Homo sapiens: one gene and its partners. The protein of the gene in region 1 interacts with the protein of each later gene in a pairwise test. Each region holds a gene or a part of one and is shown in the gene's direction. Other genes may lie near its edges.

Region 1 (5,574 bases):
GGTCTCGAACTCCTGGGCTCAAGTGATCCTCCCTCCTCAGCCTCCCAAAGTGCTAGGATTACAGGCCTGAGCCACCGCGCCCGGCCAACTTTTAACTTATACTTTTTCTCGAGTTCTATATATATATAGGTCTTATTTCTCATCCACTAGGTTGGAGACACCTCAAGAACAGGAACTGGTTCTTCCAATCCTTTTGTTTTCTCATGGCATTTTTTCTTCTTCTTCTTTATTTTCATTGCTGAACCCTTTACTGTAGGGCAGTGACAAATTTTGGAATCTCAACATGACTAGGAAACATTATAGAAGGATATGGTTTAGCAAATCCCTCCAGGATCCAAGCTGACAGAATGGAGAGGCTCAACAGTGACCTCAGCCTCACCTCCAGCACTCGGCTCCACTTCCTCGCTTTCTCTCCCCTCTCCCCACCACTCACCACTGAGCACATCTGCCCTCACTGCAGTCCCCATCCCTGCCTTCCCTGTGACCAGAGAGCCTCTGTTTTCTAACACACAACACCCACACACTCTGAAGGTGGCTAAACTCTGTTTTCAAAACTTCTCAGCAGTTTGACATGAGAAGTAGGAGAGGGTGACCACAAGTATATTTTTTCAGTTAAGTGTGAGATAGGCCCTAATGATCACATGTGTATCAGAGATACACTTGCCAAGCAAAGGAAGAGAAACACACGTTAGGAAAGGGACAAAGACCATGATCTCTTCTCAAGAAAACTTTTCTCAAACTTTCTACATTTGAAGCTCTTTCACTTCAGTCTCAGTCAGCCAGGACGGGTGAGTTTGGGGAGTAGCCAGTTGGAGTCTGGGGGGCTATTTTCTCTATCTCTGTAGCTATTTAAAAAGCTGCCGAGGTGAGGCACCGAGTGTCCCCACTCTTTGCAGCACTTCTGTCCCCCTGGCTACCTAATATTGCAAGCAGAAAATAACAAGCAAAAGCAAAATAAGAGTTGGGAGCCGACTGTGTCTTAAGAGATCATGAACTATAGCAGAAGTCCCAGGCTCCTGTGGGCTGGTGGCTCCCTTGTCCCTCTAGCCCCATCCTAGTGTCCTGCTTCTTTCCCTCCTTTCTTGAGGGCTCTCCTCTAACATGCACAGTGGGCATACCTTACCATGTGGCCTCAACTGAACCACATCTCTGCCCCTCTCTTCTGCCTGCTGGCTTTATTTTAACCATCCAAACACGTTGCTGCCGACCAGTGTCCCCTGAGACAGCACCATGGGAAACCATTCTGCCAGGCTTGGTCTTCTTGAGCAGCAGGCAACTTAACTCTCCTCCCTTTTTGAGGTCTCTAGAAAATATTTACAAACTCTCTGCCTTGGCAGTGTTCCCTTTGTAACCCTTTCTGTCACTTGTTCCAGGTGAGAAGCGCCACTGCTTTGATGTCAACTATAATTCAAGTTACATGTATGAGAAAGAGAGTGAGCTCATACAGACCCGCATGATGGACCAAGCCATCAATAACGCCATCAGCTATCTTGGCGCCGAAGCCCTGCGCCCCTTGGTCCAGACACCGCCTGCTCCCACCTCGGAGATGGTTCCAGTTATCAGCAGCATGTATCCCATAGCCCTCACCCGGGCTGAGATGTCAAACGGTGCCCCTCAAGAGCTGGAAAAGAAAAGCATCCACCTTCCAGAGAAGAGCGTGCCTTCTGAGAGAGGCCTCTCTCCCAACAATAGTGGCCACGACTCCACGGACACTGACAGCAACCATGAAGAACGCCAGAATCACATCTATCAGCAAAATCACATGGTCCTGTCTCGGGCCCGCAATGGGATGCCACTTCTGAAGGAGGTTCCCCGCTCTTACGAACTCCTCAAGCCCCCGCCCATCTGCCCAAGAGACTCCGTCAAAGTGATCAACAAGGAAGGGGAGGTGATGGATGTGTATCGGTGTGACCACTGCCGCGTCCTCTTCCTGGACTATGTGATGTTCACGATTCACATGGGCTGCCACGGCTTCCGTGACCCTTTCGAGTGTAACATGTGTGGATATCGAAGCCATGATCGGTATGAGTTCTCGTCTCACATAGCCAGAGGAGAACACAGAGCCCTGCTGAAGTGAATATCTGGTCTCAGGGATTGCTCCTATGTATTCAGCATCGTTTCTAAAAACCAATGACCTCGCCTAACAGATTGCTCTCAAAACATACTCAGTTCCAAACTTCTTTTCATACCATTTTTAGCTGTGTTCACAGGGGTAGCCAGGGAAACACTGTCTTCCTTCAGAAATTATTCGCAGGTCTAGCATATTATTACTTTTGTGAAACCTTTGTTTTCCCATCAGGGACTTGAATTTTATGGAATTTAAAAGCCAAAAAGGTATTTGGTCATTATCTTCTACAGCAGTGGAATGAGTGGTCCCGGAGATGTGCTATATGAAACATTCTTTCTGAGATATATCAACCACACGTGGAAAAGCCTTTCAGTCATACATGCAAATCCACAAAGAGGAAGAGCTGACCAGCTGACCTTGCTGGGAAGCCTCACCCTTCTGCCCTTCACAGGCTGAAGGGTTAAGATCTAATCTCCCTAATCTAAATGACAGTCTAAGAGTAAGTAAAAGAACAGCCATAAAATAAGTATCTGTTACGAGTAACTGAAGACCCCATTCTCCAAGCATCAGATCCATTTCCTATCACAACATTTTTAAAAAATGTCATCTGATGGCACTTCTGCTTCTGTCCTTTACCTTCCCATCTCCAGTGAAAAGCTGAGCTGCTTTGGGCTAAACCAGTTGTCTATAGAAGAAAATCTATGCCAGAAGAACTCATGGTTTTAAATATAGACCATCATCGAAACTCCAGAAATTTATCCACTGTGGATGATGACATCGCTTTCCTTTGGTCAAGGTTGGCAGAGCAAGGGTATAAAGGGGGAAATTGTTTGGCAGCACCAACAGAAAACAAACAAACAAAAAACAGCTACCTAAAACTTCTTGAAAGAGTTCATGGAGAATTGGTGATACAGACCCAAAGCAAATTTGCCAATGATATTTTCCACAAAAAAAGTCCAAAAAGTATGGCTCAGCCTCCCCCTCCCCACAGGAGAGGAATTGGAGATAGATGGCATGTGTGTTTAGATCGGAGTTGAGCTCCGGAATGGGGTGAGGAGGGACACCTCTATTGAGAGGTTCTCCTTGATCAGGCAGGCTTCGGCCCTTTTTTTCCCATTTAAATGGAACTGCTGTATTCCATGAAAATTCCTGAAAGTCTGATCACGGTTCTGCAGATGTATAAGTCATCCTTGTCACTCATAATATGTACATACTATCAGGAGGAGTGCTGTTATCATGGTAAAATTAGCACTGGAATAGGAGGTCACAAAATGCTGGCTAATTAGCTATGTGACTTTGAGAAATCGTTTAACTTTTTTTTTTTTTTTTTTTTTGAGACAGGATCTCACTCTGTTGCCCAGGCTGGAGTGCAGTGGTGCAATCATGGCTCAGTGCAGCCTCGACCTCCCCAGGCTCAGGTGATCCTCCCACCTCAGCCTCTTGAGTACTGGGACAACAAGTGCACACCACCATGTCTGGCTACATTTTGTTCTTTTTGTAGAGATAGGGGTCTCACTATGTTGCCCATGCTGGTCTTGAACTCCTGGGCTCAAGCAATCAGCCCGCCTCAGCCTCCTAAAGTGCTGGGATTACAGGTGTGAGCCACCACACCCAGCCTTATTTAACTCTTAAAACTCAGTTTCCGGCCAGGCTCGGTGGCTCACACCTGTAATCCCAACACTTTGGGAAGCCGAGGCAGGCGCATCATTTGAGGTCAGGAGTTCGAGACCAGCCTGACCCACATGGTGAAACCCTGTCTCTACTAAAAATACAAAAATTAGCTGGGCAGTAGTGGCACATGCCTGTAATCCCAGCTACTCCGGAGGCTGAGGCAGAAAAATCGCTTAAGCCTGGGAGGTTGAGGTTGCGGTGAGTGGAGATCACACTACTGCACTCCAGTCTGGGCGACAGAGTGAGACCCTGTCTCAAACAAAACAAAACAAAAACAAACAAACAAAAACAAAAAAAACTCAGTTTCCTCATCCATAAAATAGGAATTAGATTTCAATGTTCTCTTAGGTCCCTTCTAGCTTTAATTCATATGTGATTATGCAGTAACCACAAGGTATTTTTTAAACCTCCTAATGTATGGATATTAAGCAGAAGAGTATTTATATGAATACATGTTTCACATTCCTTTGGTATGAAAATGGTGTGTTAAGTTTTTCCTTTAACCACTGAGTTGTGAATGTGAAGAAGGTGGTGGAGAGGAACAAAAAACAGAAAGGTATTTTGATCTTGCCACAAAGCATACACACAAATTGGCACATGCAGCTGTTTGCCAAAGCCTTCTTTTTTTTTTTACTTTTTAAGAAATTATGTTAGGGAAAATAAATTCTGCTTCCAGGGACAACTTCATGGAGCCTATTTACAAATTAAGAGTCAGCTTAATTTGTAACATTTCTACCAGAGCCAAGAATCCCAAATTCCTGGTAGATTAGTGTTTTATTTCTAAGGGGCTTATGCATTCGGCTCCAACTCAACTCGTCTATGTGCTGCCAGTAATTAAAATGTTCCACCTCAGACTGCACAAATGGCTTATCCTTCTTTGTGGCATGGCGTCTGTCTCAGGAAAAAAGGTTTTATGAAATTCCATGGCAACAGTCCCAACATGTTTGAGACTTCAGCTAAAGGAATGGATGTATTTTGGTGTGTAGTCTTCAGTATATCACTGTATTTCCGTAATACTAGACTCCAAGCTATGCCAGATTGCTTATTCCCTTTGTGAAAGAGGAGTTGCTCATTACGTTCTTGAAATATCGCACATCCTGTTGGTTCTTCAAGGGACAAGAGAAAGAGAATTTGGAAGCAGGGATTAGTAGAAGAGAAAACGAGGGAAAGGAAGCCTTTCCACCAGATTAGTGTTCAAGTCTTTGCAGAGGAGACCAACTTTTTTTGTTTTCTTTTGTTTTGAGACAGTCTCTCGCTCTGTTGCCCAGGCTGGAGTGCAGTGGCGCGATCTCGGCTCACGGCAACCTCCGCCTCCCGGGTTCAAGCAATTCTCCTGCCTCAGCCTCCCAAGTAGCTGGGATTACAGGTGCTCACCACCAAGCCCGGCTAATTTTTGTATTTTTAGTAGAGACAAGGTTTCACCATGTTGGCCAGGCCAGTCTCAAACTCCTGACCTCAGGTGATCTGCCCGCCTTGGCCTCCCACAGTGCTGGGATTACAGGCATGAGCTACCGCACCCAGCCTGAGACCACCTTTTGCATCTCAAGATTGTGAAACCAAGGCCCATTCCACCAGCCTGGGGACTCTTTTTATAGATATGATCCTCCTTTTTCCTGTGACTAATGAATTTGCTGCATGATTTCTATTCTTCTGAGGTTAGTTTTCTGAGTAAGGTGACCACTCACAAAGGCACTTTCTTTGTGGCATTCTGAGCCTAGATTGGGGCCCATCAATTCCAGAAAAAATTTATGTGTGGAAACTCTGCATCCTTAAGTCTTGAAGTTGAACCAGATATGCAGTGGTTACCATCACACAGATAAACGCTGCCTTCTGTA
Region 2 (3,556 bases), about 19 Mb from region 1:
CACGTCACAGAGGTTACCTCATTTAATCCTCCAAACCACCCTATGAAGGACATTTTATTGTACCTCCACTTTATGGATGAGGAGACTGAGGCACTGAGAGGTTATTCAGGATTCAGCTGTAGCAGCTGAATGACTCCAAATGCCTGTCCCTCCACCCGTCTTGGTGCCTGAGTCCGCTGGGATGGGAGTCAGCATAGGCTTACCTGTCTCCACAACCCCCAGGATGTCATGACCGGGCCGTCCTGCTCTATGAGTACGTGGGCAAGCGGATCGTGGACCTGCAGCACACCGAGGTCCCAGATGCCTACCGTGGGCGTGGCATCGCCAAGCACCTTGCCAAGGTAGGGCAGGCAGGTGGCAGGGCCAAGCGGGGACGGGGACATGGGGGCTGCCACCTTCGCTCCGAGGAGACGGTGGCCCTGGTGGCCACTTCAGCCTGCTTCTTGGCCCTGGGTCCTCTCTGGGCCAGTGGCCGCCTTTCTGGGCCCAGGCTCCTGTTCTGCAAGACCCTGGCGTGGCTGAGCCTCCAAGATCCTCACACACCTCCTGTGTGGCAGGTGCTTCACAGGAGCCCCATTCCTGCCCCCAACCCCTTCATCCTCAGGGCATCCCAAACCCCAGGCTGCCTGGAGAGCAGGTTTGGGCTTAATGAAGGGAGTTACAGCCAGAGCAAAGAATGACCGTCACTCCCCTGAGGGCTGCTGCTGGGACTTAGCTGGGCCGTCTGCCGGCTTCCCCTCCTCCACCCCCACCCCGCCAGGAGAATTGCAGGGCAACCTTTGTCCTCCATGCTGCCTGGGGCAAGGGGGCTTGTAGGGGAGAGGTGATGTGTTTTTTCCTTGTGTACCGGACCAGTCTGTGGGGATCATCCCAGGTGACACTGAAACTCAAGGGAGTTACTGACCTGGGCAAAGTGGAAGGGTGGCCAGGGAGCCGGGCCTGGGGAGGCAGCAGACAATGCTACCTTCTGGTGCCGGCTGCAGGCCCTGACCACTCTCCTCTCTGCCCGGCTCCCAGGCCGCCCTGGACTTCGTGGTGGAGGAGGACCTGAAGGCCCATCTCACCTGCTGGTACATCCAGAAGTACGTCAAGGAGAACCCCCTGCCGCAGTACCTGGAGCGCCTGCAGCCGTAACCCTGGCCTGCAGGCGGGAGCGCTCCCTGCCGGACTCTTCCACGTGGCCTTTGCCTGGCCCCACGTGCTCTCAGGAACCTGGTCCCACTGGGAACAGACTCAGAGTTATTTTTGTAAGGACACTCATCTGTGCCCCACGTCCAGATCCCTGGAGGCAGCTGACCAATGATGGGCGGTGACCCGGTAACCGAGGCGGCAAGGAGGCCAGGTAGTCCCGGCACCTCTCACTCTGCAGAGACCAGCGGCTTCGTGGGAGGCCTGTGGGTCACACGTAGGGGCTAGAGCCAGCCTGCATCCTGCCCACCGGGCTCCACTTGGAGATCAGCAGGAGGGCCAGTGTGGGACCCCTGCTGCCACCTCTCCTGGGCCTGTGTCCTTTCTGGAAATTAAGAAGGTGTGCTCCAGAGCCAAGAGGAGCAATAAGAAACCTCGTGTGCCAGCTTCTGAGGGTGGCAGTGCCAGACCCCACCTGCCAGCGGTGCTGCCCCTTTCTCAGACCCCCATGCCCAGTGCAGGCAGGGCCCTGGAAAGGGTCAGCTCTCCCTGACAGAGACCAGCAGAGTGAAGGACTGAGCACTGGCCAGGCTCAACCGTACGTGCGGTTCACACATGTGAACACACAGGATGCAGTCTACAGGCGGGCTGGTGGTGGGTGCCGGGGGTGTTTTCCTCTCCTTGGTACCCCCATCTTTTTTTTGGCCTCTCGTGTAGGTTCTGCAGGAAACCAAGGCCCCATCCCCATGGGCTGCTATCCCCTATACCCCTGTCTGCCAGGAGGAGATCCAAGGGGGCCTGAGCAGCTGCAGGCCCGCCCCTTGCTGGCCTTGGCCACCTGCCTGAGCCTTCTCCGAGGAGATGCCTTGGGGCTGGGGTGGGAGTGAAGCTGACTATTCTCCAAAAACCACCCTCAGCATCCAAGAGGAAGAAACATCAGCCACAGGGGTTTCTGTGCTGCTGCCAGACATCAGTGTCCTCTTTTGTGGCTGGCTACAGCCGGATACACTTTGCTGCCCATCTGGCCCTGGGCTCCTCCCCAACCCAGCCTTCCTGGGTGCAGCCTGGGAGACACACTAGCATGCTTTGGTGGGACCAGCCTTTCCAGGGCATGCTGGCTTCCCCTGGGGCTGACTCAGGTCCCGCCCTCTTGTGTCAGTGCTAACAAGGATCAGATTCGTCCCTGCCCTTCTGTAGAGCTGGAGGGTGACCTGGAGCCAGGGGCCCTTTAGGGCTGAGACATTTGTTAGTCGGAGTGATGCATCCCTACCCGGCTTCGGGGGGAGTCAGGCTGGGCTCTGGGCAGTACAGGGAGAGGTTCACCAGGACCCCCATGCCTTCCTCCCCCGGTGCAGGGGCAGTGGTCACCATGCTGACTCCTCCCTTTGACTCCATGCACGGGCGCTGGCTGGCCTGTGGTTGCATTTCCCACTCACCTCCTTGCTATCCCCAGTCTTGGCACCGAGACCCCCCACATTCCTTCTCCAGCAACAGCAGCCCAGGGGCCTTCCTGCCTGGACGCAGGACCACGGAGACCTGCATGTGCAGGGAGGCCTGGCAGCCTGCCGATGGGGGTCCCCGAGCCCCGGAGTCTCCTCGAAACCCCTGCTGTGGGTCACAGCATGGACCAGGAGGGGTCACCATCCTGAGTACCCCCGACATCCCTGCCCCTTGACCTGTGGCAGATGCTCCTGCCCTGGCCTCCAGGAAGTCAGCTCTTTTGCAAAGGGCTTGTGTGAGAGGTCGGAGAAAGCCCTGGGCCTCCAGGGAGATGCAGCTGGCAGGAGGTGGGCTGAGCTGCTCCGGGGCTAGGGGTGGCCCATTGCTGGCAGAATTTAAGGAAAGAGCAGGTTGTAGGCACAGAGGATGGGCAGCCAGGCCTGGGCCTTCCCCTTACTGTCCCAGGGCAGCAGAGCTAGGGTCCTCTTTTACCCTCCCTAAGGTCACCCCCTTCCCATCTACACGTCCCTCCCCAAGTTCAAGCACATAGTCAATCATGACCACTCAGGAGCTCAGTGAGCTGGGGCCATGTCCCTGTGGCCTCCAGCCCATCCGCAGGAGGGTCCCTTGCAGTGACAGCACAAAGAGTCCCCCACAGGAAGCCCCTGAGGGCCAGCATGGACCTTGAGAGCCAGGAGGGAATGGGCCTGGTGCCACTCTGTTCCCACTCCCACCTAAGATTCCTACCCCTGTGTTCTAGCAGGTGACTCTTGATCTGGCCAGCCCACAACAAATACTTGAACTAGGCAGCATGGGGTGGTGGAGGCCTGCAGAGGCCCCGGGCCCAGGAACTGAGACTAGGGCTTTCTCATGAGGCCTCATCAAGCTCCCGCAGGTATGACCTGGCCTCCTCGCCTCGGGCTGCCTTAAAGCACCGCTAACCCACGCCAAGGGGCTAGGCAGGGCTTCGCGGGGCCTGGCCCAAGGT
Region 3 (3,634 bases), on another chromosome or scaffold:
GACAGTTGCTTGTCAAAGGGTACAAAGTTTTGGTTAGACAGGAGGAATAACTTTTGAGATCTATTGCACAGCAGGATAACTATAGTAAATAATAATGTATGTTTCAAAAATCACCTAAAAAGTAAGTTTTAAATGTATCGCTGGGCACTTTGGCTCAGGACTGTAAGCCTAGCACTTTGGAAGGACAAGGTGGAAGGGTTGCTTAAGGCCAAGATTTTAAGACCAACCTGGCCAAAATAGTGAGACCCCGTCTCATTAAAAAAAAGTTTCGGCCGGGCACAGTGGCTCAAGCCTGTAATCTCAGCACTTTAGGAGGCTGAGGCAGGTGGATCAACTGAGGTCAGGAGTTCAAGATCAGCCTGGCCAACATGGTGAAACCCTGTCTCTACTAAAAATACAAATATTAAACAGGTTTGGTGGTGCGCGCCTGTAATCCCAGCTACTCGGGAGGCTGAGGGACGAGAATCGCTTGAATCCAGGAGGTGAAGGCTGCAGTGAGCTGAGATTGCACCACTGCACTTCAGCCTGGGTGACAGGGTGAGACTGTCTCAAATAAAAAAAAAAAAAAAAAGAAAGAAAAAAAGAAAAAAAAAAACAGAACAAAACTGTCTTTTGGAGCTGACGTTCTAGTGGCTCACATTCCCAAAGCTTTTATCTCAGTGCTTGACCCACAGTAAGCGATAGGTAAACTCCATCATCTCGTGGCTATCATCATTGTCATTGCTGATATAATCTATTTCTGCTTCTATTCAGTTTGACACGAATGGAGATGGGGAGATCACCCTGGTGGAGCTACAGCAGGCCATGCAGAGACTCCTGGGGGAGCGGCTCACCCCCCGGGAGATCTCTGAGGTTGTCCGGGAGGCTGATGTTAATGGAGACGGCACAGTTGACTTTGAAGGTGACATTGACGGGGCGTGGTGGGGAGCGGGGGCAGCCACCGCAGGAATCCACTTCCAACTCACTGTCAGATTTTCCAAGTTGGCCACTCCTTCTCACTCCTCTCCAAGTTTGAGAATGGAAGCGGGTGGCAGGTTTTGGAAGCATTTGTTCTGTCCCTTTCTTCCCAGGCTATTCATTTCAAAGAGCTGGGTGTCGCTCACTTCTGGTGGCTCCGAGGAACACCTCAGCCAAGGCCCTTTCCTTCCCATGCTCAGGACGCCCTTCCGCCTTGCCCATTCCTTGTTAGTTTGCAGGGCACCTTTTATCCTAGGAAGAACTTGTCCCATCAGAAAGAGACTGGACTGGCTAGCAGCTGGAGCTCTGGGGTCAGGTTCAGGGGCTTCAAATTCAGGATCATCGCTGACTCAGCATGTGGCTTATGCTACTCCCTTTTTCTCTTTAAGGGTCAGTTTTCCCATCTGTAAAATGAGGTGGATGATGACACCTTTTGGAGAAAACTAAAAGAAATCATGCACAAAGCACCACTGTATTTTTAAATTTTCCTTCCCTGTCTTTGCTCAAGTTGTCCTTCCGTCTGGAATACCCTTTCCCCTCTCCCCTGGCTAACTCCTAGTTATGTTCCTGGAAGGTACCTCCCACCTCTCTTACTGGGCTCCGTGTCCCTCTGCTGGCTCCCCAGTAATACCTCCCGCTTGCTTCTGCAGTAATACGGATTCGTGGCATCTCTAGAGTTTATTGCCTATTTCCTTCTGAGACCATGGACCAATTCCTTCATCATCACTATATCCCCAAATCCTAGCACTGAGCCCAGCATGAGTATATTGGATCACTGAATAAGTGAAAAGGATTGGGGTTCTACATGGATGAGACGTGGGGTTCTTTTTTATGTGAGGCATAGGAAGGCATGTCGGCCGGACATGGTGGCTCACGCCTGTAATCCCAGCACTTTGGGAGGCCGAGGCGAGTGGATCACCTGAGGTTAGTAGTTTGAGACCAGCCTGGCCAACATGGCGAAATCCTGTCTCTACTACGAATACAAAAAAATTAGCCGGAAGTGGTGGCAGGTGCCTGTAATCCCAGCTACTTGGGAGGCTGAGACAGGAGAATTGCTAGAACGCTGGGGGCGGAGGTTGCAGTGAGCTGAGATCGCGCCATTGCACTCCAGAGCAACACTCCGTCCAAAAAAAAAAAAAAAAAAGCATGTCAAGTTCTAATTGTGACATTCTTTGGTTCAAAGATCTCAGCACCTATCTGCTGCTTATGGACAAAAATCCAAAATTCTGGCCGGGCTCAGTGGCTCATGCCTGTAATTTCAGCACTTTGGGAAGCCAAGGTTGGCGGATCACCTGAGGTCAGGAGTTCGAGACCAGGGGGGCCAACGTGGTGAAACCCCATCTCTACTAAAAATATACAAATTAGCTAGGAGTGACAGTGCACGCCTGTAGTCCCAGGCTATACGGGGGCTGAGGCAGGAGAATTGCTTGAACCCAGGAGGTGGAGGCTGCAGTGAGCCGAGGTCACACCACTGCACTCCAGCCCGGGCAACAGTGAGACTCCATCTCAAAAAAAGAAAAAAAGAAAAAAAGGCCAGGCGCGTGGCTCACACCTGTAATCCTAGCACTTTGTGAAGCTAAGGCAGGCAGATTGCCTGAGCTCAGGAGTTCAAGACCAGACTGGGCAACACCGTGAAACCCATCTCTACTGAAATACAAAAAGTTAGCCAGGGGTGGTGGCATGTGCCTGTAGTCCCAGCTACTTGGGAGGCTGAGGCAGGAGAATTGCTTGAACTTGGGAGGCGGAGGTTGCAGTGAGATCGCCCCACTGCACTCCAGCCTGGGTGACAGAGCGAGACTCCGTCTCCAGAAAAAAAAAAAAAAAGTCCAAAATTATTTGTCTGATATGCAAGTCTATCCATCATCTGGCCTCGCCCACCCACCCAGCCTGTATCTTCTGTAGCTATTCTCTGAACTTTTAAGTTCTGGCACAAACTTGGTGCCTGCTTTATGTTCTCCAACCTCCGTTCCTAGGCATCAGATGCTCCGTCCACTTACCACATCTTTCAGTCTCATCCATCCCTCAGGAACTCACATCAAGGCAACCTTTGTCAGGAAGCTTCTCTCCATCCTTCCCTCATGTCTTCCTCCCAGCTGTGAAGTCTTACAGAAGTTTTTCTGTTCCTCTCCATGGAAGTTATCACAGCAGACCTTGCTGTGTTGAGTTGTATTAGCTTCCAAGGCCTCCATCCTAGATAGAGAGGAGGAAGGGCCATTCTCTAAACCATATATGCTGTATGTCCCAGTATGGAAACACAGTAGAGGCTGGTTGGACACCTGCTAGATCTAGCCAGGATTAGGTGTGCAGTGGACATCAAGTGACATCTGGAGAAGGTGGGGTGGGGGTGGGAGATGATCCTCAGGCCAACCAAAGGCAAGGGAAGGTCAGGATGACCTCAAGACCCGGGTGGGCAGCAAGATCGTCTTGAGCCACAGCAAAGTCAGGTGCAACCTGCATTCCTTCCAGGGTTCACCATTCACTATCCACGTGGCCTCAGGTATGTTGGTGACCCTCGCTGGCGTAAGTTTCCTTATCTGTAAAGTGACACTTATCCCTCCAGGATGGTTGAGATGATGAAATCTCATAGTGACAATCACAGGTTTTTTGGGTTTTGTTTTTTAGATGGAGTCTCACTCCGTCACCCAGGCTGCACTACAGTGGTGCAACCTTGGCTCAC
Region 4 (4,140 bases), on another chromosome or scaffold:
TTTGTTCATTTATTCTGCAAACAGTCTAGATATTGTGCTAATATAGGGACCCGTGGCGGGCTGCAACAGAAACAATCCCTCATTCCCAGCAGTTTGCAACTCCTGATTTCATTTAGTCCTCAAAAGAACCCTGAAAAATGGGTAGGGTTAGTTTCATTTTATAGATACAGGAACAGAGGCTCAGAAATCCTGTCTAACCTCAGTCAGTTGGTAAGTGGCAGCTGCCTCCTAGCAGGAAGGATTTGAGATGATATCTCTACACCTCCTTTCTTTCCTTCTTTTTTCTTTTCTTTTCTTTTCCTTTCCCCTCCCTCCCTCCCTCCCTCCCTCCTTTCTTTCTTTCTTTCTTTCTTTCTTTCTTTCTTTCTTTCTTTCTTTCTTTCTTTCTTTCTTTCTTTTTCTTTCTTTCTTTCTTTCCTTCTTTCTTTTTCTTTCTTTCTTTCTTTCTCTTTCTTTCCTTTTCTTTCTTTCTTTCTTTCTTTCTTTCTTTCTTTCTCTTTCTTTCCTTTTCTTTCTTTCTTTCCTTCTTTCATTCTCTGTCTTTCTTTTTCTTTCTTTTTCTCTTTCTTTCTTTCTCTTTCTCTCTCTCTCCTTCCTTCCTTCCTTCTCTCTCTCTCTTTCTTTCTTTCTTTCTTTTGATGGAGTTTTTGCTTTTGTTGTCCAGGCTGGAGTGCAATGCCACAATCTCGGCTCACTGCAACCTCTGCCTCCCAGGTTCAAGCGATTCTCCTGCCTCAGTCTCCCAAGTAGCTGAGATTACAGGCATGTGCCACCACGCTTGGCTAATTTTTTGTATTTAGTAGAGACAGGGTTTCACCATGTTCGTCGGGCTGGTCTTGAACTCCTGACCTCAGGTGATCCACCCTCCTCGGCCTCCCAAAATGCTGGGATTATAGGCGTGAGCCACCGCGCCGGGCCTCTACACCCTTTTTCTTAACCACAGTGTAATGCCTCAGCTTACCACTGGATCCCCAATTTTGGACATAAAAGTTGACTCCTTTTTTTGTTTGTTTGTTTTTGAAAAAACTGTTATGATGAACATTCTTGCAGCCTATTTATTCCATGATTATTTTCTTTGTGGAAATTTCTGGAAGGGCAAATGGCAAGGTTTCTGGTACCTGTTGCCTTATTGCCCTTCCAAAAGGTTTGCAAGGAAGGCTGATTTGGGAGACAAGGGCAGGGAGTGTGGAGGCCAGGAGAGGCTCCTGGGTTTCCAACTGGGAGCCTGCTGGTCTGACTGTGTTCCCTGTTCCTGTAGAACCACCGTGACTCGAGGCTGACAATCTTCGAGCAAGAGAACTTCCTGGGCAAGAAAGGAGAGCTGAGCGATGACTATCCTTCCCTCCAGGCCATGGGATGGGAAGGCAATGAAGTAGGGTCCTTCCACGTCCACTCTGGGGCGTAAGTGTATTCAAGGCTCTACCTGGCAGGGGAGGGGCTACTGGGAGGGGTAGGTGTACCTCCTGTGAAAACTGTGTGCTGGGGACTTTTGTGCTCTGATGCCCACATTCCAGAGGAGAACACTGAGGCACAGGGAGGTATCAGGCAGAATTTGAGGGACTGAAACCCAGATCAAACTGGTTTGAGCCCAGAAGATATTTATCAGCCCCTGTAATTAGCTTCAAGCATAGCTGGATCCAGGTACTACAGCAGGTATCTCTCTCCCCCCACAACCCCCAACCTGTTGCCCTGCCTGCCTCTGTGTGACTATATTCTTAGACAAGCTCTTCCTGTGTGAAGGCAAAGGTGGCGGCTTCATCGTTACATCCAGCCCTAGGGAAAGACAGTGTCCAGGCTCAGTGATTCTATTAAAGGTTCCAAGAAAGGTGCTCATTGGTCCAGCTGGGTCCTGTGCTCAACTCTGAACCAATCATCATGCCCATAGGAATGGGGTGTTCTGATTGGCTAGGTTTGGTCATGTGGTCCATTGCTAGATTCAGCCTCATTTTCTCACCTTGGCTGAGAGTGAGAGGCCACAGGCTCTTTGGCTAGAAGAGGGGAGAATGAATGCCCCTAGCCATAAAACACAGGTGTGGCTCCAGCAACCTGCTCAAAGTCCATCAGCAGGTAGGTAACAATCCAGCTTCAAACTCAGCACTGACTGGCCCTTTCCTTTCCACCCAGGAGGTGGCAGGTGAAGGCTAAGGTGTGAGATTCTTATTTAGGGAGGACATCAGAACCACTTTCTGAGGTGCCCCTTGGCTCCTGGTAGGCAGGGGGCAAAGATGGGAGGTAGGGTTTTTCATCTTTTTTTTTTTTCTTTTTTTGGCTTTAGTTTTCTCAGGAACCACCAAAGAATCATGTTGTTTTAGAGTAAGAGGGACCCCTTGTGATTCTTGAGTTCACTTCCTCTTTTACAGAAAGGGAAATGGAGGCTTGGAAAACCAGACACCAATCCTTGTCCTGAACAGAGTAGAAATCAATGAGTTGGGCCAGACACGGTGGCTCACGCCTGTAATCCCAGCCCTTTGGGAGGCTGAGGTGGGCGGATCACCTGAGGTCAGGAGTTCGAGACCAGCCTGGCCAACATGGTGAAAGCCCGTCTCTACTAAAAATACAAAAAATTAGCTGGGTGTCGTGGCTATGCCTCTAGTCCCAGCCACTCGGATGAGGCAGAATTACTTGAACCCAGGAGGCAGAGGTTGCAGTGAGCCGAGGTCATGCCACGGCACTCCAGTCTGGGCAACAGAGTGAGACTCTGTCTCAAAAAAAAAAAAAAAAAAAAAATCAATGAATTGAAATGATAGCTTTTTTTCTTGGAAGTGCCTCTGGATAAGGAAGGAGGGAGAAAGGGGAAAGAACAAGACTTCCCATTCCTTCACTTGTTCACTTATTCAGCAAATATTTAGGAACCCCTTCTTCCTTGCTAGACTTTTATATATTTATGCAGGTGGTGATAACGATGAACAAAACATACACGTTCCTACACTCAGGAGCTTGCCTGCTGGCAGGGGAGGCTGATATTTTACAAATAATTTGAAAACTATCGAATTACATGAGTGCTACAAAGGTATAATAAGGGACTGTGGCCTGATTTGGGGAACGAGTCAGATTGCCCTCATAATTAAGATGAGCCATGAAGGACAAATACAACTTGTCTAGGAAAAGAAAGGCTGGGATGGTGCTTCTGGCAAAGGGAATGGCATGATCAAAGGCCCTGTGGTAGGGGAGAGAGCATGGCACATTGTGAGCACTGAAGAAAGGCCAGGATGGCTGGAATTGTGTGCGTGTGCATAGATCCCTTTGCCCCTGTGTTGATCACCATGCTGGTGTCTCTGTAGAGTAACTGTCTGCCTTTTCTCTTTTCCAGCTGGGTTTGCTCCCAGTTTCCGGGCTACCGAGGATTTCAGTATGTGCTGGAATGCGATCACCATTCCGGTGACTACAAACATTTCCGGGAGTGGGGCTCTCATGCCCCGACCTTCCAGGTGCAGAGCATCCGCAGGATCCAGCAGTGAACAGGGGTGCGGCACGGAGGAGCGCATGCGTGCTTATCTGCAATGGAGGCGCTCTGGAGGCTGTGGTGTGTTCTCTCCTTCTGCCTCCCCCTGTAACCTGTGTGAACCCAGCACCCATGTGAACTGGTCCGTGCACAGTCAGCACAAAAAACTCAAACGAATAAAAAAGAGAAAGTCTGGTATTAGTTGTGCTTTTCAATTTTATTAATCTTTTCAAAGAACCGGTTTTTAGCCTTGTTTTCTCTATCATTATTCCACTGATTTTTACTCTTAACTTCAGTATTTCCTTTCTTCTATTTACTTCAGGCCTACTTTGTTCTTAGTTTTTCTAGCTTTTTTTTAAGGCAGACTTCTGGGTCATTAATTTTAGGCCTCTCTTTCCCCCACCCAGTACGGTCATTTAGCTATAAATTTCCCTCCAAGTATGGCTTTAGCTGCTTCCCACAAATATTAATTTGATGTGTTTTCATTGTCATTCAGTTTGATATTTTCTAGTTTCACTTGTGGTTTTTTTTTTTTCTTTTGACCTATGGGCTATTTAAAGGGATGTTATTTAAATTCCAAATACTTTAGGATTTTCTAGGTGTTTATTGTTATTGGTGTGTTTTTAAAGACCAATGTGGTCGGAGAACATATTCCTTAAGATTTAAGTCTTCTGCAATGAATTAAGACTTATTTTATG

The links. Proteins that work in one complex are often made in the same cells at the same time.
Region 2: the proteins of IKZF3 (region 1) and NATD1 interact in binary tests that used the Homo sapiens proteins (3 or more experiments, as listed by UniProt).
Region 3: the proteins of IKZF3 (region 1) and CABP5 interact in binary tests that used the Homo sapiens proteins (3 or more experiments, as listed by UniProt).
Region 4: the proteins of IKZF3 (region 1) and CRYBA4 interact in binary tests that used the Homo sapiens proteins (3 or more experiments, as listed by UniProt).

Annotation. Positions count from the first base shown.
Region 1 is NC_000017.11:39,762,293-39,767,866, reverse strand, and holds part of IKZF3 (zinc finger protein Aiolos), read left to right. Parts: intron 1-1,373; coding exon 1,374-2,077; 3' UTR 2,078-5,574. UniProt on the Homo sapiens protein: Transcription factor that plays an important role in the regulation of lymphocyte differentiation. Plays an essential role in regulation of B-cell differentiation, proliferation and maturation to an effector state.
Region 2 is NC_000017.11:21,240,891-21,244,446, reverse strand, and holds part of NATD1 (protein NATD1), read left to right. Parts: intron 1-222; coding exon 223-341; intron 342-1,017; coding exon 1,018-1,134; 3' UTR 1,135-3,556.
Region 3 is NC_000019.10:48,031,482-48,035,115, reverse strand, and holds part of CABP5 (calcium-binding protein 5), read left to right. Parts: intron 1-753; coding exon 754-901; intron 902-3,634. UniProt on the Homo sapiens protein: Inhibits calcium-dependent inactivation of L-type calcium channel and shifts voltage dependence of activation to more depolarized membrane potentials. Involved in the transmission of light signals.
Region 4 is NC_000022.11:26,627,030-26,631,169, forward strand, and holds the end of CRYBA4 (beta-crystallin A4), read left to right. Parts: intron 1-1,258; coding exon 1,259-1,401; intron 1,402-3,310; coding exon 3,311-3,458; 3' UTR 3,459-3,640; downstream 3,641-4,140. UniProt on the Homo sapiens protein: Crystallins are the dominant structural components of the vertebrate eye lens.